Linked DNA regions of Homo sapiens: region 1 is reported to be linked to region 2. Evidence: microRNA targets listed by miRTarBase, many of them from high-throughput screens and not tested one by one. Region 2 holds a microRNA gene; the other region holds the end of a gene's coding sequence.
What was found. Region 2 holds the annotated microRNA hsa-miR-2116-3p (CCUCCCAUGCCAAGAACUCCC, at 1,616-1,636, shown strand). A microRNA usually pairs through its seed, bases 2 to 8, with sites in the 3' UTR of a target mRNA and lowers its output. Matches are read on the target gene's strand: a 7mer-m8 pairs with bases 2 to 8, a 7mer-A1 pairs with bases 2 to 7 and ends in A, and an 8mer does both.

Region 1 (3,000 bases), not on the chromosome of region 2:
GGAAGACTACACTGATCTGACTACCATTCAGGTCACTGATGACCGCAGCGTTTGGGGCATGACCCAGGCCCAGAGCGGGCTGGCCATTGCCGCCATTGTAATTGGCATTGTCGCCCTGGCCTGCTCCCTGGCTGCCTGCGTCGGCTGTTGCTGCTGCAAGAAGAGGAGCCAAGCTGTCCTGATGCAGATGAAGGCACCCAATGAGTGTTAAAGAGGCAGGCTGGAGCAGGGCTGGGGAATGATGGGACTGGAGGACCTGGGAATTTCATCTTTCTGCCTCCACCCCTGGGTCCATGGAGCTTTCCCGTGATTGCTCTTTCTGGCCCCAGAGAAAGGTGAGCCTACCTCTTCCTGACTTGCCTGATTCTCCCGTAGAGAAGCAGGTCGTGCCGGACCTTCCTACAATCAGGAAGATAGATCCAACTGGCCATGGCAAAAGCCCTGGGGATTTCCGATTCATACCCCTGGGCTTCCTTCGAGAGGGCTCTTCCTCCAAATCCTCCCCACCTGTCCTCCAAGAACAGCCTTCCCTGCGCCCAGGCCCCCTCCGGGCCTCTGTAGACTCAGTTAGTCCACAGCCTGCTCACTTCGTGGGAATAGTTCTCCGCTGAGATAGCCCCTCTCGCCTAAGTATTATGTAAGTTGATTTCCCTTCTTTTGTTTCTCTTGTTTGTGCTACGGCTTGACCCAGCATGTCCCCTCAAATGAAAGTTCTCCCCTTGATTTTCTGCTCCTGAAGGCAGGGTGAGTTCTCTCCTCAAAGAAGACTTCAAACCATTTAACTGGTTTCTTAAGAGCCGTCAATCAGCCTGGTTTTGGGGATGCTATGAAAGAGAGAAGGAAAATCATGCCGCTCAGTTCCTGGAGACAGAAGAGCCGTCATCAGTGTCTCACTTGTGATTTTTATCTGGAAAAGGAAGAAACACCCCAGCACAGCAAGCTCAGCCTTTTAGAGAAGGATATTTCCAAACTGCAAACTTTGCTTTGAAAAGTTTAGCCCTTTAAGGAATGAAATCATGTAGAATTTTGGACTTCTAAAAACATTAAAATCAGCTTATTAATACGGGATAGAGAAAGAAATCTGGTGCCTGGGGGTCCCTGTGTTCACCCCTAGAGTTTGTTTTAAAATTTTTAATTGAAGCATGTGAAGTGTACGTGCAGAAAAGTGGGAACATGATAGTGTATGGCTTGGTGGATTTTCACAAACTGAACATACCTGTGTAATCAGCATCTAGACCCAGACCCAGAGCATCACAAATATCCCCCATCCTGGGCTTTTCCCAGAGGAGATGGGGGCTTCTGAAGATGGACTTACCTGGGACCTGCCCCCCATGAGCCAGGACGGTCCCCCCACAGTCAGCCTGTGCAAAGGCCCCGTGGCCAGGGGTGGAGGAGAATATGTGGGTGTGGACAGGATGGGAGACTGTGGCCTGAACAGGAGATTTTATTATATCTGGAGACCCTGAGAGACCCTGAGACCTGGGGCACCATGGCTGGCCAGGTCAGAAGCATCCTGACTGCAGAGGTCCGTGCAGCCACACCCTCTTCCCTGCCAGCAAGCTGTCTGCGGCTCATCGGAGGCCCCTCCGCCTGGAGCCTTCTATGGACGTGATATGCCTGTATCTGTTTTTAATTTTCATTCTTCACTTAGGGGAAGTGAAATCGCTCAGAGATGAGATCCTTTAATTGAAAACGAAGTGTAACGGAATCTAGTGTCTTTCTAATGTGGTAAAATTCTCCATCAACATCACAGTCAGCTGGCAGCTGAACTTCAGAATCTCACTTACAGCAGGCGACACGGGGGTACACCGATGGGTCACACTGGGTCTGGGGGCTCCCTGGAGCTCCTCCTGCGTGTGGTCTGGTTAGGAGTTGAGTTGTTTGCTCCAGGGTTATTCTCCTCCTCGAGTCACAGTCACACGAATACCTGCCTTCTCTGGCTTTCCTGCTATACACATATTCACATGGCGCTCAAGAAGTTAGGCTCATGGCAACGTGTGTCTTTCTCTGGACAACTGGCCCAGTTTACAGTGAAATGGAGAATTTCAGGTCTCCACGTCTGCCCAGGAAAGAACTTCAGCTGACTCCACGGGGATCTGGAAATCCACGACCAATCCCGATCGGCTCTTATTAGCTCCCCGCTCCACAAGACACCTGTGCTTTGGAAATCCACCACCAATCCCGATCGGCTCTTATTAGCTCCCCGCTCCACAAGACACCTGTGATCTGGAAATCTACCACCAATCCCGATCGGCTCTTATTAGCTCCCCGCTCCACAAGACACCTGTGACATCCTCCAGGGCCACAGGAGCACGTGCTGACCAGTTTTCCCTTCCAGTTCCTGCACAAAAAGTGTCCAGAGGGCTGTTTGCAAACACTAGTGCACTTTGTAGCTTTTCACCCTCTGTCCCAGGGAATCTAGGAGAGATGAGGCCCGTCAGAGTCAAGAGATGTCATCCCCCCAGGGTCTCCAAGGCATTTCCACACTATTGGTGGCACCTGGAGGACATGCACCAAGGCTTGCCAGAGCCAACAGGAAGTGAGCCCAGAGCATGGCACATGAGCATCACCCGCTGATGGTGGCCTGCTGTGCCTGGTGCCAACAGGGGCATCCCGGCCCGTACCCCTCCAGACAGGAAGCATGGGTTTGCCCACAGACCTGTCGGGTGCTCCTGTGAGTGGCCTCCAGATGTCTTTGTGCATAGGCACAAGTGGGCCAGGGCTGGAGGGAGGTGGGAAACCTCATCATCCGGTGGGCCCTGCCAATCTTAACCCAGAACCCTTAGGTATTCCTGGCAGTAGCCATGACATTGGAGCACCTTCCTCTCCAGCCAGAGGCTGACCTGAGGGCCACTGTCCTCAGATGACACCACCCAGGAGCACCCTAGGTGAGGGGTGAGGGCCCCCTTATGTGAACCTCTTGCCTCTTCCTTTCTCCCATCAGAGTGGTTGGATGGAGCCATTGGCCTCCTTTTCTTCAGCGGGCCCTTCAACCTCTCT
Region 2 (4,408 bases):
AGTGGTTACCCACAAATTCCCAAGTAGATTTCTATTAGATTATTGAGAATTATCATTCAAATGACAATATATCAGTATTTTAGAATGAAAATTTTATGAACTCCCAAGAAAATATATGCAGACACTGCCCCCTGTTTAGAAACATGCTGTAGTGCATCCTTGCTAAGTTCACCACAGGTGTTGGTGACTTTCCCTTTACACCTGCTGTCCTGATATGTGAAGTGACTCCATATGAGTTTGCCAGTTTTTAAGTCAAAAAGAGTCAAATGTCATCATTTTTTACATGTCATCCTAATAATCATGAACAATGCCCTCTTTCACTGTCATGGGGCCCGGTCATGTGATGAATGGAATGGCCTCTCAACAGTAGTGAAGATTGACTGTCCAAGGCAGCTTCCCCCTGTCCTGGTAACAGCAGTCCACTGTGTGAATTGTTGTCATCACATTGACCATGTCTGTCCACCTTTTTTTGAGACGGAGTCTTGCTCTGTCACCCAGGCTGGAGTGCAATGGCGCAATCTCGGCTCACTGCAACCTCCACCTCCCAGGTTAAAGCGATTCTCCTGCCTCAGCCTCCCAAGTAGCTGGGATTGCAGGCGCCCACCACCACACCCAGCTAATTTTTGTATTTTCAGTAGAGACGGGGTTTCACCATGTTGGTCAGGCTGGTCTCGAACTCCTGACCTCAGGTGATTCACCCGCCTCGGCCTCCGAAAGTACTGGGATTACAGGTGTGAGCCACCATGCCTGGCCTGTCCAGCTTCTTAAAGCTCCTCTCCTTACAGGGTGTAAAGCGAGACCTGCTCCTTACCCCAAAGTGCTTGTACTTAATCGGACGAGAAAAAGTCAAACAGGGCCCAGACAAGGGCCTGGTGAAAGAAGTCCTGAAGCGGAAAATCGAGATAGAACGGATCTTGTCTGTGTCCCTCAGGTGAGTAGTGGAGGTGCAGAGGCAGGACTGCCCCTTCTCGCCTCAGCATCACGGTCCGCTGTTCCAAACAGCCAGGAGGAAGGCCGGGCTGGGCTTCCCAGCTGTCAAAATCATGATCAAGAGAATGGAATTTCCCTTTGTCCCAAAGGGAAGACTCCCTAGTCTCAGCAAGTCTTGATATGTCAGGAAGAAGGTACCAAGAAAAGGTTGCCTCCGGACAGCTCCTCTAATCAAGGGGGACCCAGATCTCTTGTAACCGAAACGTGTTAGAAATGAACCCGGTATATGGAACACCTCAGAGAATAATTTCTCTTGTTGCAGTAGAGCCAAGGATTCAGAGCCCTGTCCCCCAGTCCACCTCACCCAGGTTGGAGGCCTCACCCATTTCCCTGAGCAGAGGGTCCTGAAAGGGAAGTTTCTTTGGGACTTCCTTAGGGAGTGCAAGTTGGTCTCCATTCTCTGTAGCCCTGGAGTCATCGTGAGATGCTCTCTTCGCTCCAATTCTCAGGCAGTGGGGAGTGGTGTTTGCTTCCACAAGGCCTCAGGAAGGGCCCTTGCTCCTCCCGGCAGCACCTTGGCTTCCTCTCGGCAGAAGGGCTCCTCTGCCGGCCGTCAGCATCTCCTCCGTCAGTGGGACCTAGGCTAGGGGTTCTTAGCATAGGAGGTCTTCCCATGCTAAGAAGTCCTCCCATGCCAAGAACTCCCAGACTAGGAGTCCTCCCATGCTAAGTCCTCCCGAAGTCCTCCCATGGTAAGAACTCCTAGACTAAGTTCCGCTGACACAGGAAATCCTCGCAATCCATGAAGACTAAGAATGGAAGAAAGGCCTCCTTGAGCCCCATAGCTTCCTCCAAGAATCGTGTCCCTGGGCCTCTGAGGCTAACACTACTTTAATCAGGAAAAGCTTTGGGCCTTTGCATTAAAGATGTTCTGCTCTCACATGAACATGGAATTGGGACGCCTGTCAAACTCTTACTCCACACAGAAGGCAAAACTGGTGCGCTCAGGAAAAAGCAGGGGTTTTATGTGCTCAGGCGTCTGATGTACCAAGCTGGAAATCCTAGTTCCAGTCTGATAATCCAAAACAGATTTCTAGTTGCATCCATTCTTGCCTGTGTCTCTGTGGTTTCTGATTCTATCTGTTCCTAATTTCCCTGGATAAAGGACCAGGCAGTGCAGTGCAGTGAAGTATTTAAAACGTGCCAACTCAGGATGTGGTAAAGTTGCTAAGCAGATGAGTCCGCAGTGTCCATTTTGCAGCCCCACCTCAGGTAGGTTTCAAGGCTATTGTTTTTTTTGTTTTTTTTTTAAAGCTCTAGGCGCTGACTGATTTTCTGAAGGCCTTCCTAAACATTCAGCTCACTGGCTGGGTCCCAACCTGAGCGGGGCAGTGCCTGCTGGCCACACTCTTCCTGGCTAGCTGGGCCCTGAGGCTGCCGTGGAAACCCAACAGGAAGCTCCTGCTTTGTTTGTCATTGCATGGGGCCCTGCCATGCCTGGACTAAGCCAGGTTGGCCACAGCGTGCTTGGCAGGCACAGCAGGTGAAAGTCAGGGAACCACAGCTCTAGGGTGTGTGTAGTCGCTGTGCCGAGAGTGACTTGTTCTTTCTGTTATTGCCCAGGTATGTCTTCAGTCCCTCAGACCCCTGGTGGAGTGCTCATGACTGGGACCATAAATTATCCTAATTGAGCTACATTTGTGTGGTTGTTTTGTTTTGTTTTGTTTTGTTTTGTTTTAGACAGAGTCTCGCTCTGTCACCCAGGCTGGAGTGCAGTGGCGTGATCTCAGCTCACTGCAACTTCTGCCTCCCTGGTCCAAGTGGTTCTCCTGCCTCAGGCTCCCGAGTAGCTGGGATTACAGGCCTGAGCCACCACCCCTGGCTAATGTTTGTATTTTTAGTGAGAGACAAGGTTTCACCACGTTGGCCAGGCTCGTCTTGAACTCCCGACTTCAAGTGATCCACTCATCTCAGCCTCCCAAAGTGCTGGGATTAGAGGCGTGAGCCACCGTGCCTGGCCTTGAGCTACACTTGTATCAAGCACTTTGACACTTACTATCTTATTGATAAGTCCTTGAGGGGGTTGTCAAGCAGGGACTGTAGGGACTGTTCACACTCAAATTTCTTCCTTTTATTGTTTTTTGTTTGTTTATTGTCTTCTTTTACAGCCTCTGGGGATATAATCTGTCATGGGAGCACCAGCTTCTTTTTCTTCTTCCTGTTCAGTATTCATTATCTGGAAGGTTCCTTTCTTGCGGTCTTTCCTTTTTAAAGGCTGTAGTAAAATGAGGTACTTAGCCTAAAAGTTTTTCTGACTCTAAGGAAAAAAAAAGAAAGTGTGAGTCATTTGAACTTGTGATGTCTGTGTATTGCAGTCACTGAACCTCACACTTGCCAAGATGAATAATAGTGTCCCCTCATTTCTTTATACTTGAGTTAGGCCAGTAATCAGAACCAAGTTAGGAAAGCAACCAGAGGGTGATGTGTGTGCAGAATCGAACCCAGAGTGGAAATTAATTCTGGTACCAGACTACTGAACATGCGTGTGTGTTCTCAAAATACTTCAGTACTGGCATAGAGAAAGATTTTAACAGTTGGCTTGTACTTCAGGAAAAAAGCTGCAACATCTGTATGTGTTTTTAAGAATTTCTGAGATTGACCAGTTGACTATTGGCTGGAATGATATCAACATATGGCCTCCTAGTTACGATTTATCAAAGTATCCCATAAGCTTGATCTTAGCCCATCTCTAGCTCTTACAATTAATGTCAGTGCACAGTGGGCCTACAGCTCCCTATTCAAACCAACCAACCATTCAGTAACAGTTACAAGACAACATGTGAGCATGACTAAATATTTGGTATGAAGAATTTATTGTTTATTTCTGTAGGTATGATAATGTTTTGTGGTTAATTTTAATATAAAGAGACTTTATCTTTTAATAATATGTACTGAAACATTTGAGCATGAAATAAAGGCTGAGCGCAGTGACCCACGCCTGTAATCCCAGCACTTTGGGAGACCAAGGCAGGAGGCTCGCTTGACCCCAGGAGGTTTGGGACCCACCTGGGCAACATAGTAAGAACCCATCTCTACAAAAAATGTGAAAATTAGCCAGGAGTGGTGGTACGTGCCCGTGGTCCCAGCTACTCAGGAAGCTGAGGTGGGAGGATTGCTTGAGCCCAATAGGTCAAGGCTGCAATGAGTCATGATCATACCACTGCACTCCAGCCTGGTAGTTATTTTAAAGTGGAAGCAGGGAGAGTGAGGTTGTAGATAATTGTGATTATCCGTGAATTGGTGCTTGAAATCTGACATGTGGTGGTTCATTCTATACTACTTTTTATTTTTTTGAGACGGGGTCTCACTTTGCCACCCAGGCTGGAGTGCAGTGGCGCAATCTCGGCTCACTGCAGCCTCGCCCTCCAGGTTCAAGCAATCCTCCCACCTCAGCCCCCTAAGTATCTGAGACTACAGG

Region 1: miRTarBase lists LRRC15 as a target of hsa-miR-2116-3p. Seed matches in the 3' UTR shown: 8mer at 1,416-1,423.

What each region holds. Positions count from the first base shown.
Region 1 is chr3:194,356,509-194,359,508 of GRCh38, reverse strand. LRRC15 (leucine rich repeat containing 15) reads left to right here. Exons shown (of 2, transcript NM_130830.5): 2 at 1-3,000. The coding sequence ends at 211. Among named protein-coding and RNA genes, the nearest start is that of CPN2, 6.7 kb to the right of the region's middle.
Region 2 is chr15:59,168,420-59,172,827 of GRCh38, reverse strand. It overlaps MIR2116 (microRNA 2116), which reads left to right and starts at 1,566; the gene lies at 1,566-1,645. It overlaps MYO1E (myosin IE), which reads left to right. Exons shown (of 28, transcript NM_004998.4): 22 at 786-931.